Linked DNA regions of Homo sapiens: region 1 is linked to region 2. Evidence: fine-mapped expression QTL. A gene starts in region 2. The other region holds a variant in brackets. All regions are shown on one strand. Distances are from middle to middle.

The links.
Region 1: its variant is fine-mapped to the expression of ADSS2 in sun-exposed skin (GTEx, PIP above 0.99).

What each region holds. Positions count from the first base shown.
Region 1 is chr1:244,365,565-244,374,089 of GRCh38, reverse strand. The region is part of intron 2 of SPMIP3 (sperm microtubule inner protein 3); the gene reads right to left. Among named protein-coding and RNA genes, the nearest start is that of SPMIP3, 17 kb to the right of the region's middle. The variant G/A (reference allele first, on the strand shown) is at 4,455.
Region 2 is chr1:244,448,387-244,456,386 of GRCh38, reverse strand. ADSS2 (adenylosuccinate synthase 2) reads left to right here and starts at 4,478. Exons shown (of 13, transcript NM_001126.5): 1 at 4,478-4,752. The coding sequence starts at 4,570. It also overlaps a transcript of CATSPERE not described here. RefSeq lists silencers at 4,089-4,578, 5,019-5,298.

The DNA.
Region 1 (8,525 bases), 83 kb after region 2:
CCAGGCTGGAGTGCAGTGGCCCAATCTCAGCTCACTGCAACCTCCGCCTCCTGAGTTCAAGTGATTCTCCTGCCTCAGCCTCCCGAGTAGCTGGAATTACAGGTGCCTGCCACCACACCGGGCTAATTTTTGTATTTTTAGAAGAGATGGGTTTCACCATGGTGGCTAGGATGGTCTCAAACTCCTGGCCTCAAGTGATCCGCCCACCTTGGCCTCCCAAAGTGCTGGGATTACAGGCATGAGCCACTGCACCCGGCCAGAAATATGTCTCATTTTATAGTACATTGCTTTTCCTTTTATATTATAGTTATAAGACTGTAATGAGATAGGTTGGTGTAAAAGTAATTGCGGTTTTTGCTATGACTTTACTTTCAATGGCAAAAACTGCAATTACTTTTGCACCAACCTAATATTTTTAAATTATATGTGGTTGGTTTATATTATTTACAGATTTTATTTCAGAAGAATAGCAGAGATATTACAAAATATCTATTATTAAAAAGGGGGTATTGTGTCTGAAAGTTTGAGAACTACTGATGGAGGTGATAGGAATCTTTGTGAGGTTTGCTGTTGTTTGTTTTGTTTGCTTTTAGAGATGGAGTCTCACTGTTGCCCAGGCTATAGTGCAGTGTGATCATAGCTCACTGTAGCCTCTAACTCCTGGGATCCAGAGATCCTCCTGTTTCAGCTTCCTAAGTAGCTGGGAGGGACTACAGGCATGTACCATATGCCTGGCATGCATATATATATATATATAATTTTTTTTTGTAGTTTCACTATGTTGCCCAGGCTACTTTGTGAGATGTTTAACAAGGTTCATGACATGGTAGAGAAAGATCTTTTTTGATGGCAATGTGGAAAACCATTTTTTTTAAAAGACAGGGTCTCATTATGTTGCCCAGCCTGGTCTGGAACTCCTGGGCTCAAGTGATTCTCCCGCCTTGACCTCCCGAAGTGCTGGGATTGCAGGTGCGAGCCGCTGCACCCAGCCAGAAAACAAATTTGAAGACCATGTGACTAAAAGCAGAAAGACTGCTTAGGAAGTGATTGTAGTGCTTTATGTGGGACATGACGAAGCTCTGATATGATGGAAATGTGGATGGAGAGGATAGGGCTGATTGAGGATATTTTAGGAGATAGGATGGAGGGTAAAAGACAGGGAAGTGTCCAAGACAAAGCTGCATCTTCAGGCATTGGAAAGAATCCTGCCTTTCCCCAAGAGAGGGAACACAATAAATGGCCATCATTGGGAAGGTGACTTTATTGAGTTTGTGATGCCTGGACATGTGGGGTCTTTCGGGATGTCCCACAGATTCTGAGCAGTCAGTAGATGCCATAAAAATTCAAAGTCAGGAGGCTGGGCTCGCGCCTGTAATCCCAGCACTTTGGGAGGCCAAGGCGGGCGGATCGCAAGGTCAGGAGTTCGAGACCATCCTGGCTAACGCGGTGAAACCCAGTCTCTACTAAAAATACAAAAAATTAGCCAGGTGTGGTGGCGGGCACCTGTAGTCCCAGCTATTTGGGAGGCTGGGGCAGGAGAATGGTGTGAACCTGGAAGGTGGGGCTTGCAGTGAGCTGAGATCGTGCCACTGCACTCCAGCCTGGGGGACAGAGTGAGACTCCATCTCAAAAAAAAAAAAAAAAATTCAGAGTCAGTAGAAAGTAGCACATCATTTTGCATAACGTATCTCACTAAATATGTGTTAGATAATGGATGAAAACTGAAACTATGCCTTCAGTTCGACTCAACCAACATTTATTGAATGCACACAAAACACCCTGCACTATGCTAGGCTCTGCAGATACAAAGCTGACTAAGAAGCAGCGCTTGTCCTCAAAAAGCTCTTCACATGCTGAAATAGTGATCTGAATAAAGGGTCCATAGGACACAGAAGAGGGAGGAGTATCTAGATCTAGGACTCGGATAAGCAAAGGGGTTGGGGAAGAGATTCCAAGCAAAGGGAATTATAGGGGCCAAGACATGGACAGAATTAGGTTCTGAGTGGAGTGTATGAGGGCTAGAGTGGGCCTGACTGTCTAGCATGAAAGGCAAGCACTGAGCAGGGCGAGTTCTGTCTCTGTCTGTGCAAAGACGACCTCTGGGAGCTCTGATTTGCAGAAAAACCACAGGCTGTCTGGGCCTGCCCAGTGGCTGGGATAATATGACTGAGCCCTGGATGGTAAATAACAATGGGGTATTAAGTCATAAGAAGAGAGAGGAACTGGCACAATAAAGGGAACAAATGACATTTCTGAATGCACAGGGGTGGGACACGTAGCTTTCTTAGGCACCTATCCATTTTCTGAAGCACCACCTTGGAATATTACCCCAGGGCCACATTACAGTTTAAGAACCCACCTAAAGGATGCTGGTTTCTACAGTTGCTGGGCTGTGGGCGGTGGGCTGGGTTTTGACCATGGCGTGCATACAAACAAACACCTGCTGAATACAGGTGAGTAAACTCAGCGCTGCTCCTTAGAAGCAGTCAGTAAAAGCTGATTTGAGGATAAAGAATCCCAGCACCAGCACCAAGTAATCCTCCCTGCCACCGCCCCTTGGCAGTGTCTCTTGGCAGGTTTTGGGAGGAGTGAAAAGAAAATGGGAAGGTGTGTGTAAGGAGATGGGTGTGGAGAGAGGGATGGCTGGGTGGAGAAGAGAGTTTTGACCTCCTAAGGGGAAATGTCTAGCCAGGCCAGAGGCTGTGCATTACCCGGCCTCAGTGAATGATTGTGAAAGCACGTGCGGACTCTTCAGACTTGGCTGTGGAGGCCAGCCCAGCTCAGGGCTCTGCTCAGAGTGATTCTGTTGAACCCGGGTTTTAACCAGCTGTAGAAAGCCCTTTCCTTCTCACTGGGCAGGTGCAGGCACCGTGCGTGATTTTGAGTCCCTGATGGCTTGGCTTTTTGAGGTGATGTATTCAGTCCACATGAGAGCAAACCTGTTCCCTGGGAGGGTGGCTGTAAATGGAGTGGGATCTGGGCTTAGCCACAGTCAAAATTCAATATCTATAGGAGAGGCCAGAGGTGTCGGTCCCTCCAGAGCCTGGCCCCACAGCCCCAGGTAGCCTGTGTTCCTGTGACCACGCTCTTCTCTGTTACGGCCCTGCTGGGGCTCATCCTCTACAGAGCATTTTTACAGAAATGATCTCACTTAATCCTCACAGTCACCTTGCAAGGTAAACATGATTAACTCTCTGCTTTATAAGAATAGCCCAAGTCTCAGAAGGGTTAAGTGGACTTTTTAAGTAGTAAAGTCCACTTAAACAAGTAAATGCCAGCGCCGTGTATCAAACCCAGTTCTCCAAACTCCATGTCGCTATTCTGCCACCCGAGGGTATGTGTGATGATTTGTTTTAATAAGAATTCAGTGCTATTTTCATACAAACTCTGTGATTCTCTCATTTTGGGGCAGACAGCAAATAGACATTGTACACTAAAAAATAGGAAAAGCCATAAAGACACAGCAGTGTTAGCTGGAAGATGCTTTTAACTCAACGAAAAGCACTCACTGCAAGCTCTGCTGTGCCTCCAGTGGGCTAGGCACTAGGGATACAGTGATGACAATGTTGTCTTTCCACTCAAGAGTTCATAATCTGGTCAGGAAAGCCACGTTTAGGCAACTATCTAATCACAGACGATGTGGTGAGTGCTACGCCTGATAAGAAACTGAGGCTCAGGGGAAGTAAATAACTTAGCTAAGGACATGAGCTAGTAAGTCCAGAAGACAGAACTAAAGGAAGGACTAGGAAGCCTCCAGACCTGTGCCCTCATCTCCCAGGCTCTGCCGGCTCCACAAGAATCTCCTCAAGGGAGTGGGGAGCCTCAGTTTCCTCATCAGTAAAATGGGAATGATACTGTCTTCTCCTTTAATGATTGCATGAGAGTAAACGAGACATTTGTACTTGGTGGCTAACATCTCCCAAGGTGTTGGTATTGATACAGGAGATGGAAATTATTTAGGCAGATGGAAAGGGCAACAGAGTCCTCGGCGGAATTTCCCTTTTAACAAAAAGCAGCCCCAAAGTCATTTATTTTCTAACAAAGAGTAGCCTGTAAAATCATGCTGCAGACATGAATAAGCAAGCTGGAAACTTGTGTGGGTGAATGCTGGCAGCTGTGCCCATAGAAAAGGGCTACCTGAGGGCCAGCATGTTCAACATGGAGGCGCCATCTTCCCCTTTCTCTGTCACCACGTGTATAGTACAAACAAAAACAGGCAACTGAACGTGACCCGGCTAGGCAGAGAACCCATCTACATAATAAAAGATTAGGGTGGGGCGGCCAGCTTCTTCACGTGCCATGCAAACAGCACACCTAGTCCTAACCAGTTCTTCCCACATTATGCAAACACCACACCTAGTCCTAACCAGTTCTTCTCACGTTATGCAAATGGCACACCTGGTCCAACCAATCTTTCGTGCCCTATGTAAATCAGACACCACCTCCTCAAGCTC[G/A]GTTATAAAACCTGCACTTCACCAGGGACCAGAAGACCCACTGCGACTCCCTCTCTCTGTAAGAGAGAGATTTTCTCTTTCTTTAGCCTATTAAACCTCCGCTCTTAACCTCACTCCTTGTGTGTTCACGTCCTTGATTTCTTTGGCGTGTGGCAATGAACCACGGGTTGTACCCCAGAGAAATGACGCTGCTCCAATATCATCCCACGCAGGATGGGCTGACCACACAGTTGCCTCTGGATCTTCAGAGACTGTTTCGATCAAAGTTTTAAAAGTCTATTTAAATCACACACAAATTCTGTATCTTCGATCTTCTACAACACACTGAATTTAATCCACTTAAAGTGATCTTTTCAGGAGTATCCTGGGTTCCACAAACCAATGCCACACCCAGCCCTTCTCTGAGTGACAGGCCTCCAGCCTGTAGCCAGGGGATGGCACCAGTAAACAGTTGCATATAATATGATTTTTTTTTTTGAGACGGAGTCTGGCTCTGTCGCCAGGCTGGAGTGCAGTGGTGCAATCTTGGCTCACTGCCACCTCTGCCTTCCCAGGTTCAAGCAATTCTCCTGCCTCAGCCTCCCGAGAGGCTGGGACTACAGGTGTGTGCCATCACGCCCTGCTAATTTTTTGTATTTTTAGTAGAGACGGGGTTTTACCATGTTGGCCAGGATGGTCTCAATCTTTTGACCTCATGATCCGCCTGCCTCGCCTGCCATAGTGCTGGGATCACTGGCGTCAGCCACCGCACCCGGCCAATATGATGATGAATACAAGAATTTTATGTGGCCACTACTAAGTGTGAACCATTTAATATTTACTTTTATTTAGTGTCCCAAAACCTCAGTTTTCTGTAGCGTAGCTCTGAGGCTTGGCCATTTAAGGATGAATTGGATACATGCTTGTGCAGAACCACACAAGGGCAGGCTCAGGTGCCATCAGTCACCAGGGGTACACACCACACATAAACGATTGGATAACTTTGCTCACTCATTCATTTCAATATTTTCAACAACCGTGCCTACAGGGCCTACCAGGAATGGTAATCTGCAAGGCAGAGGTCATGATAGTGAGTTGCAGAGAAAGGGAAGTAAGCCCTGCCTGGAGGGCTAACCTGGAGATGTGGCAAAATGCAGTGACCACAAGCACAGACGTGAGTTTAAGTCCCATGTCCGCCAGTCAGTAGCTGTGGGATCTGGGGCAGTCATTTAACCACACCGTGCCTTGGTTTCCTCATATGAAACTCACAGTAGTGAAGGTTAAAGGAGTTCAGATGCACCTAGAACAGTGCTTGGCACAGAGTAAGAGCTTCAGAAGTGTTTACCATTATTATTCCAGGGGGTGAGACAGGCAGGATATAAAGAAACAGATAAAGTAGGCCAGGTGCAGTGGCTCAAGCCTGTAATCCCAGCACTTTGGGAGGCCAAGTTGAGTGGATCATTTGAGGTCAGGAGTTCGAGACCAGCCTGGCCAACATGGTGAAACCTTGTCTCTACTAAAAATAAAAAATTAGCCAGGTGTGGTGGTGGGCGCCTGTAGTCCCAGCACTCGAGAGGCTGAGGCATGAAAATCACTTGAACTCAGGAGGCAGAAGTTGCAGTGAACCAAGATCATACCACTGCACTCCAGCCTGGGTGACAGCGCAAGACTTTGTCTCAAAAAAACAAAAACAAAACAAAACAAAACAAAAAACCAAAAACCTTTCCTTCCTGAAACCCGGATGAGGAGGAAGCAGGGGAGAGAGGAATGGAGTTGGCTCCAGTATTTCCTGATTGTCTCCCCACAGCGTTTGCTCTTTCTGTGTGTGTTTGAGATCTGTTTTGTTCACTGAGAGGCCTATTTAACTGTGGTCTTATCTGGGGAAAATGGAAACAAACCTCCATTGGCCACTCCTGCCTAGTGCTCTGTGGTGTCTGGACCTGGCCGGGAGTCCGGGGGTTTGGGTGGAACTGAGCACAGCAGGCCCTGGGGCCCCTGGAGGCCTAAGGCTGGGCTGTCTTCTGCTCTCTGGGGCTTGTCCTCCGAGCCGCACGTGGGTTGGGGGGCACACTGACGGCTCCGGCTCTTCCTGCACCTGAACTAGTCTTGTTGCCCCCACCCTCCGCCCATAGTGCGCACCGTGAGGCAGCTCTGTGTGCCTCTCCTGACCTGTGGGTCCAATCAGCAAGTCCGTGCATTCCCCCTCCAGGCTGGATCTCCCATGGGACGGCTTCTCCAGCCCACGGCCACCCCTTGGTCCAGCTCACCATTGCCTCCCCCTGCTCTCTGCAATAACCCCCACTCTTGTCCTCAGACAATCTGTTCTCAGAGTGAGCTTCATAAAAGTAAATCGGATCAGGGCCCTCCATTGCATAAAACCCTTCAACCCATTGCATGTATAATAGCATAAAACCCAGACTCACTATTGTAGGCCACAAAGCCCTCCGGGAACTTCTCCTGCCTCTACCGTCCCAACCTTCTCCCAGCTCCAGCCCCTGTGTCATCATGTCATGGCTTCTTTCATGAATCAGGGATTTTGGACCTGCACTTCCTCCTCCCTAGACCGCACCCTTCTCCCACCCCCTGCCCCTATCACCCAGCATCATGCTCGGCTGACAACTGCTGAGAGAGCTGTTCCCTGAACACCCTGGCTAGAGAAGGTATTCTCCTTCTGCCTACCTCTCCACCTGATTATTCTCCCTCACACCCTTTTTCATTTCCTTTATCACAACTTCCAATTATTCTATCTGTTTAGTTTTTCTTTCTTTCTTTTTTTTGAGACAGAGTCTCATTCTGTTGCCCACACTGGAGTGCAGTAGTGCGATCTCGGCTCATCGCAACCTCTGCCTCCTGGGTTCAAGCGATTCTCCTGCCTCAGCTTCCCGAGTAGCTGGGATTCCAGGTGTGTGCCACCACGCCTGGCTAATTTTTGTATTTTTAGTAGAGACAGGGTTTCACCATGTTGGCCAGGCTGGTCTCGAACTCCTGACCTCAAGTGATCCACCCGCCTTGGCCTCCCAAAGTGCTGGGATTACAGGCACGAGCCACTGCATCAGGTCTTAAAAGAAAATTCTTAAGATGTAGCCAGGAAGGACACATCCATCCATTCACTCCTTCTGTAGTTTCTGGAAGAAGGACTTCTCTTTTGTTGACCAAACATGGCTAAAATAACTCAATATTAAAATAAACATGAGGCTGGGTGTTGTGGCTCACACCCATAATCCCACACTTTGTGATACCAAGTGGGAGGACTGCTTGAGGCCAGGAGTTCCAGACAGTCTGGGCAACATAGTGAGACCTGGTCTCTACAAAAAATTTAAAAATTAGCCAGGCAGCTTGTAGCCCTAGCTACTCAGGAGACTAAGGCAGCAGGAAGATCAGTTGAGCCCAGGAGTTTGAAGTTGGACTGAGCTATGATCCAGCCACTTCACTCCAGCCTGGGCAACAGAGCCAGACTTTGTCTCTAATAAATAAATAAAAATAAAATAAACTAAACACGAGGCTTGCTCAAAGCCACAAAGCCAACGGGGCTACAGGAGGCTGACCCCCATGTCATGGTGTGAGGTTGCTGTCACAAATTTATAGCTACTACACTGCTGCAGACCCGTCGAGGTGGTGAAGGGGGAGTGGGGTTAGGATTTACGGACTGTCATCTGATACCAAATTTAGCACAACAAGACAGATCTAGGGCTTGTTATTCTTGTGCCATAGAGGACCTTGAAGAAAGAGCGAAACAGCTCCTTAGTTTCCATCTGTGCCGTCAGCTCTCATCAGAGGAAGCACAGGAGCAGTTTGTTTTCCCACAAGCAGAGTAAAATGGTCCAATCCAAAATGTGGGCTTGGATTGCTCAGACTTCTCACTAAAGCTCTTCCCAAGCAAAAACCAATATCCTTCTGGTCTTTTGGGAATTTGGAGTTGCCTGTTTGCTTGGATTCTGCAGTGAGTGTGAGGCTTCTTTTTCTTACAACTTTCCCTAAACCCAATGTGGAGGCTAGAGCAACTCTATGTTGGATGCTAATTCACCATGTTGGCTTCTGATTAACCCCTTGTATTAGCCCATTTTCATACTGCTATGAAGAAATACCCGAGAC
Region 2 (8,000 bases):
TTTTTGTTTGCCAGTTTCTTAATTGGATTACTGGCTTCAGGGTGGAGCCCCTGGAGGAACAGGGCTAGGAAAGCTTGTGTTTCTAGGGCCAAACAAGCAGCTGAAGGCAAAGACGGATTCTTAAAATTAAGGGTGCCGCTTTACACTGGATCCTGGATCCCAAGAGGACGGAAATACTTCGAGAGAAGACAGTGCAGTGCTTTTACCAACTATGCATTTCACTGCAACGCAACCCAAAGCCAATCAGTCCATTTGTAATTAGACCATCCCCCATGGGATTCTCATCTCTCTGTTGGGGGGCGGGGGGGTGTTTCCATGTCTTCCAGGTGGCCAAAGCATGCTTCTCTGATCCAAGTGTGCGAAGAGCCAAGTATGCCTCCGTAACTACTATTAGCCAACTCCTAAAGTATATTTCCTACCTAGTTGTTATACACCAAAGCTCTCTCAGAATGAGAAGTAATTTCTGATGCCCCTAAAACTCAAAACCGTCAGATAACACAATGCAAAACAGAATAGAGCCTTGGATTTTGAGAGGGATCTGTCTGCTTTTAATTCTTGGGGTTTCATGAGGAAAACAGAGCTTTTTTCCAAAACGGGGTCTGTGGTGCCTCCTGTTTTTCCCAAGGAGTCCCAGGCTACCAGAAGCTATCTCAGGGCCTCTCATGTGTACATTAAGATAGGCAAAACAAAAAAGTGGAGGAAAATAATTCAGTTGACTGAGAAGGAAAAAAAGACCTTTTTCCAGAAAAATAATCTTTTTCCAGAAAAACAAGATCCAAGAAGAGAGAAACATAAAGGCCTTTTAAATATACCTACAGCTTGTTTATCCACTTTTAATTAAGCTGACTTTTAACCATAGCGCTCTTTAAAAAAAAAAAAAAACCCTTAAAAATTTTATACCCAACTTTAGCCACGCCAAGCGGCCAATATTTTTGGCTTTTGAATTCTACCACAGGTAACTTCCCACCTGAAATTAAGTTTTAACTAAGTTTATAACCATGGACACACAGGTGTCTCAAAGAGATGGTAAGCAGTTTTTTTTTCTACAAGATGTAGAATCTCCCCCAGGGTAGTTTAGAGAAAGGAAAATTCAAGACAGGAAATCAGAAGCTATTCATGGGAGCGGGGGGACGCGGGAACCTCAATAAATGGCAAAGTTACAGAAATAAAAAACCAGAAGGGAATCATTCCAGAAGCCAGGAATAGAACCCAGACCCCCCACTGTCAAGAGGCAAAACCTTAGCTACTGAGTTACACAGTATTGAGCAGTTTCTATTGTGCTTCCCAGAAGGAGCCTACAGAAGCCAGTTTCAAGCTTGCAAAGGCTTTTAACTGCTCAAGAAAATTCTTAGGGCTAACCTAAAAATCCCCAAATTCCTGTCTTCTAGATGGTGGAAACCAAGAGAAAGTATCTCCACATGGTCACAAAGTTAAGCTCTTCAGGACACAAAACAAGACAGAGAAATTTCATACAGTATTGGCTTCAGGGACCTGTAGCAAAGTTTGTAACTGACCAGCCTGCCAAGCCGGCTTGAAAAGCAGGCTTATAGGGGTCCTAAACCCACGTTCTATCCTGTGACACCCATCTATCCACTACAGAACACAGAAAGACAAATTCTTAGCACAAAACTACACCAGATTTGCTACAGCCTAAGACTAGTCTCACAAATCCTTTTTTCCATTTATCAAACCCTTGCAGAGGAGGTAAACAGTTTACTATTTACTGAGAAAGAGAGAGAGAGACCACAAACCGGTCCGGTAAGAATTTCATACCCTCTGTGCCGGCATACCAGATTTCCGGGTTCCCTTTCTCTGCAGTTTCCAGAAGAATGGAGTGGCTTTTGATGACCCTGCTTGCTTGTGCTATAGCTGTGGGGTTCAAGCCACTTTACAAGAGAAAATCACCCTTTACTGTTTTATGGAAACATAGACGAGATTCTTAATTTGCAAGATGCTGCCCAGCGGGCTGCATGGGGAACCGAATTAACATTTTCCATCCCAGCAAAACACACATAACAAAACACACATTAGCCACCTCGTTCAGCTCCCAATATCAGCCTGGCAAAGCTCAAAAACTTTTTCTCTTTGGTCCCTGTTGTCTTTGATCCACTCCAGGTGGGGAGGGATGACCTCCGAACGGTAATTCACAATGGGGTCTCTGGGCAAGACGAAGAGCAGATAGTCACCCCGAGACAGGCCTGTTGAGCCTTCTGTAGGGCTCATCAAATGTGACCAGACAAATAAGGAGGGTTTTGAGTTAGGTCTGCTGGACTTCCATCAGCAACCTCTTCTGAGATCCCTTCCACATATACAAACGCACACAAAGACGAGAGGACAGAAGGCGTTCCCAATCAGATCCCTAACCAAGAACTCCGGGAGTATCCCTTCCAAACTATCCTCCTATTCTCCTTCTGAGAAACCTCCTTGAAATCTTCCTGATTCAGGAGAAGTCTCCCAAACCTGGACTCTTCCTACTAGTTAGAAAGAGCCAAATGAGACCCCCCCAGGAGCCGAACAGACACCCTGCAATGGGGCTACAGACACCTCACCATAGGGCTACAGAACCAGTTGGGAGAAAGGAGGCGTTGGCAGCACCTAGGATACTCACCAATCCAGACACCCTGCCCTGCAATGGGGCTACAGACAGACACCCTGTGATAGGGTTACAGTTAAGGGACGTCTCCCCGGGGCTATTTCTCCATTGCAATTAAATCCATGCACACTGGGTTGGCAGCACCCCACCAGTAGAGAGAGTACCAGAGTCAGCCCCCAGTCCAAGAGAACTGGGTGGCCGCTTGGGCAGGCTTCTGGATCCATTGCTGGAGGGGGGCCACTGAACCACGAGTAGGTAGCCACAAAGGCAATGCCAGACAAGCCCCCAAATTTGTAACCGCCCAAGGGGTTCACCTTGTCCACTGCCTAGACAGAGCCAATTCATCAAGACAGGCAAATGGCAATAGAGAAAGAGTAATTCATGTAGAGCTGGCTGTGCAGGAAACCAGAGTTTTATTATTACTCAAATCAGTCTCCCATAAATGATTTTAAAAAATTGAATGGAAATGACTAGTAAGGTGTGCTTATTCAGTATCTACTATCTGCCCAACACTACCTCGGGCATTTGACTAGAAAGAAATAGATGGCATTCTTGTTTCCAAAATGTTTGTGATCTTGTAATAAGGCCAAGATAGACAACAATTATCACATAGTATTATAATTGTTTACTAATCAATAGACCAAATAATTTGAATCCTTGAGGGCTGAATTGTATCTTTATTTCTCCTATGTTATCAGTGCCCAGGACACTTAGTTAGTTAATAGCAGGTTCTCAATGTTCCTGACTTAACTCATTGACTAGAAATAAAATACTAAAGTGTACTCTAGGGACCATTAGTGAACATACAGTATGTACAGGCGATTTGGGAGACGGTACATATAATGTGATTCCATTCCCACTTTTTTTCGAAGCACCTTTTATCAGAATTAAACATCATAGTTAATTTGTGTTGGTGTCGAAAGGGCATTAGATGAACAGTAGGTATACACCAGAATCTAGTTACAAATGTAACTGAGAGACAGTGGAATCTACAGGAAGGACATGGGCTCTGGACTTAGATTATCGAAGTACCAATTCAAGCCTCACTAGGGCAAGTTACCCAGCTTTTAAATCCTGTAAAATAAGGATAATAGAGGATCACCTACCTTATATGGTTGTGGGGATTAAAAAATAAAGAAGTGCATGACGGTATCTGCATATATGTACTATATGCGACATAGGTAATCCACTCCTCCTCTCTGAGCCTTTGTTACTACTATGTAAAATGAGGATTAGGACTTTATTTGATCTATTGATTTCAGGTCTCATGTCCTTTATCTTATTGCCTTACTTTTGAATTTTGTCTTTTTTGATCCCTGTCCCCATCTCTGTTACTTCCGGACTTTTAATTTCCAATTCTACACTTACACGTTCCGATTTTATGCTGTTTGTACTGCGAAATTCCACAGTTTGTATTTTGTACACATTCATTCCTTAATAAAGACAAATCCAGACAAACCTGCAGATGGCAGACACAGTGGCCCCAGAATACACCGCCGCAGCCCAGAGCGTTGCATGCTGGGATTTGTAGTCCGACGCTCCACACGCGCTTCCGCGCCTCTCCAGTTTGAAAGCGAGAGGTAGAGCGGGTAGGCGGGGTGCTGAAGGAGAAGCGCTCTCGAAGCCCCGCCCCTGACCTTTTCCGCTCGCGAGGTTTGCACGGGAGTGGCGCGCCAGGCCGCGGAAGGGGCGTGGCCTCGGTCCGGGGTGGCGGCCGTTGCCGCCACCAGGGCCTCTTCCTGCGGGCGGTGCTGCCGAGGCCGGCCTGCGCGGGGCAGTCATGGTACCCCCTTGAGCGGGCTGTGGCGGAGAGCGGGGCGGGGACTGGCTGGAGGGTGGCGGCCCGGCGGGGCGGGGGCGGGGCCGGCCTCTGGCTCCTTCTTCCTCTGCATGTGGCTGGCGGCCGCAGAGCAGTTCAGTTCGCTCACTCCTCGCCGGCCGCCTCTCCTTCGGGCTCTCCTCGCGTCACTGGAGCCATGGCGTTCGCCGAGACCTACCCGGCGGCATCCTCCCTGCCCAACGGCGATTGCGGCCGCCCCAGGGCGCGGCCCGGAGGAAACCGGGTGACGGTGGTGCTCGGTGCGCAGTGGGGCGACGAAGGCAAAGGGAAGGTGGTGGACCTGCTGGCGCAGGACGCCGACATCGTGTGCCGCTGCCAGGTGAGGCGACGGGGCCTCTCATGGGAAGCCGGGCCCGGGAGCTCGGGCTGCCTGGCTCCTGGTGCCCGGGAACTCGGACCCAGAACCCGGATCCACTGGCCAAAATGAGGTGTCACCTTGAGGCTCTCTCCTCCTGTCCTGAGCTGCGGCTACGTGGAGAAATGGCGGGAGGTCGGGGACCCCTGACCTGGAGCGTCGGGTGAAACTTGGGGTGGCCCTGGAGGAAGAGGTGGGCTGGCGGGGAGCCTTTGAGAGATGCGCGATGCCTGGCAGTTGCAGTTTTGCGTCTGGCGAGTGGTGCTCAGCGCCGGGACTGAGGCCGGGGTGGAGGTGGGATGCGGTCCGAGTTTGAGGAGCTACCGCCCGAGGCCTGCTCCCAACTCTTCCGACTGCGGGCGGAGACCCGGCGCGACGGCAGAACCCCCCATCACCGCCCCCCCGCCCCGCCCAGGGCGGCGGAGTGGGAGTGGATTGTTTCGAAACGTCCTGAAATCAGACTCACCGATCCCCCATCTGCAGGACCGTGGCATGCAGTGCTTTGCTTCCTCTGGTCCACTTTGTTGACATCCAAACCCACCCACCTCTGGGCTTTGGACTGTTGTTTTAGGGCCCTGAGTTTCTTGTTTTTGTTTTTGTTTTTACAGTGTGCTCCATACATGAAAGTTAAGGAGAAATTACTTTTACTAGTTGGTCCCAGAGGAAGGAATCCCTTCTCTGTTCAAAAAAAGTGAGGGAAGTAAATACATGGATGTCAAATTGAGTATTTGGAAATAAATATTTGCATTGTTAAGGTGACATCGAAAGTGAACTTTCGGAAAACGAGGTGGTAATGTACTTCTAACGGGAGACACGTGGTTTTCAGTGTAACCTTTCTTCCTATTTGTCGTTTCCTTTGACGCAGCATACAGGGTAAGGCCTTTGTAAAGGCTCTCAGATAACTCTCTCCAGTTTCAAAATTCTAAGCAGATGAGCAATAACCACTTTCAAAACAAAGCATAATGTAATATTTGAAGTTAACTGCTATCTGTTTAGGTTGCAAGAATATTTGTTTTTGAACATGCATGGCATGATATGATGGTGCCATGCTGTATATGTTCTAGTAAGTTATAGGCCCCCTTGAATACCATTTTGAGCATGCAGAAACAATGAAATCACAGGTATGTTAAAAAGCTAAATGCAAATACTGCAAATATTCTCTGATTTACCTTGTTTCGTTTTGTTTTGTTTTCATTTAGAAATCCACCCTGCCCATTCTGAAATAGCTGTTGCACTAATTGCCTCTTAGGAAACTGTCACTACCACCTCTCCCTCCTTCCCTTCCAGCCTATTATTTCTCCACCCCTCTGGCAACACACTTTGTACCTTAGCAATCTTCAGGGTGTTGCCATTAAATTCCTGCCCCGCACTTTCTTAGGAAATACTCCAGAAATCCAGCCTTTACCTACCTTTTGTCTTACATTCAGATCTGGTCATGCTGTGGGGAAGACGTATCCGAATACCGAGCTTTCTTGCTGTCGACAGCGGGAGAGAGGCTGAGGCCTGTGTGTCTCCTTCACTGACATCTTGACATCTCGTTAATATGGAAATAGCTCAGGTTGAGCTACACTATGGGTTGTAAGAAGGTTTGGAGAACACAACCATTATGGTATTTATTCTAAAGGATCCTCAATTTTAATATTCTATGGAGAAATATTAGAAGTAGTTTGTAGCTTGGAGAAGGTGTTACTAATGTTACCGAGAAAGTAGTCTTGAAGTCATGGACCAACCTGATCTGATGCCCTTGGAAAGGCTAGAGAAGTGATTGAGAAGGAACTAAGTTTGGCTTTAAAATGTTAGCTGAAGATAGTGGAGAAACAAATGAGGGGCCTTGTTGGGCAGACTTCCCTCACCTGTGTATTTTTGACTTAACTACCTTCCTTATAGAATCCTTATGTTCTTTTAGTGCTTTTTAAAAGTGTATCATTAGGATTCTTTATTAGTCTTGTTAGCAAAAAATAGATGAGTAATGAATAGATTTAAGCATTATCTCTTTTGTGATTTACCTTGGTAACTTTGTATTATTTGGTTAGCCCTAGTAAGCTGGCATCTACTTAATGAAGTTCCCCTAGGTTATAAAATTGGAATGTTGAAGTTCTTAGTGAGTGTGTATAGAGAGCTGGAAAAAATCAACAGTAAGACATTGTGAGCTTGGATTGCCTTGTTTGATGTCTTAAGTTTTGTGTGTTAGTGAAAATATGTCCTTTGTTAGAGTTTAATATATTCTGCCATATTTATGTCATGAGTTCAAATTTTATTCAGTACTGTTTCTCCAGAAGTGATGTACACATAATGTATCCGTATTTCACCAGTAGACTCATAAGGACTTTCTCCCAACATAAAATATAGTTTTAAAAAGAAAAACTGGCATTGCATTTAATGATAAATTTTAATGTATAAAATGCCTTTTTGGAAACAATAGATGCAAACCTAGTGGCGTTTTCACTCTTAACAGCGCTTAAGGCCTGTGTTGTTCAGATTCAGGATTTATGGGGAGTTATTTATAACTTGGTAGGTTCCCCAGATCCATAAATATGTAGGACTTGCATCAAAGGACAACCACTACTGCTGCCTTAATTTTAAATCAATATTTATTTTAAGAAGAAGAGAGAAGAATTAAATAGAGGCCCAACCCTGGGTACAGGTCATTCATCTAGTAAACATTGAGTATCTGCAGGGGATCACTTAGCCTGGGAGTCAAAAATCTGAAAAAGGCAGGGATTGTGCCCACAAGGAGCTCACAATCTGGGGGACAACTGCTGTGTAAGCAAAAGTGTTGAGAAGGTCGGGATGGAGAAAGGTACTAGTCTAATACGTTTCTCAAGAGGTTAAAGTATGGGACCAAGAAAGTCCCTTTCTGGCATCACAAAAGGAAGCCTAATACTGTTTTTTCCCCAGTTCTCTCAAAGTAAAATACTGTGCTTTGTTTTCTGTATTTTGCTGAGTAGAAGCTACAGAAACTTCTTAACTATAGTAGTTTATACCAGGCTTTAAGCAAAGGCTTACTTATTTATTGTTCTTGAGGAAAGTAACTTCGGTGGTCTTGGTTATAATGACACACATGAAGTTGCCTGTGATCGGGAAAGGCTAGAGCAGTGTTCCGTGTGTATTCTCTCCAAGGCTTCAAAGTCAATAAAAAGAGAAAATACTAAAGTTAGTCATAAGGGAAAGCACACCCCATCACTTGATATATGTTTATAAAAGCTTGCTAT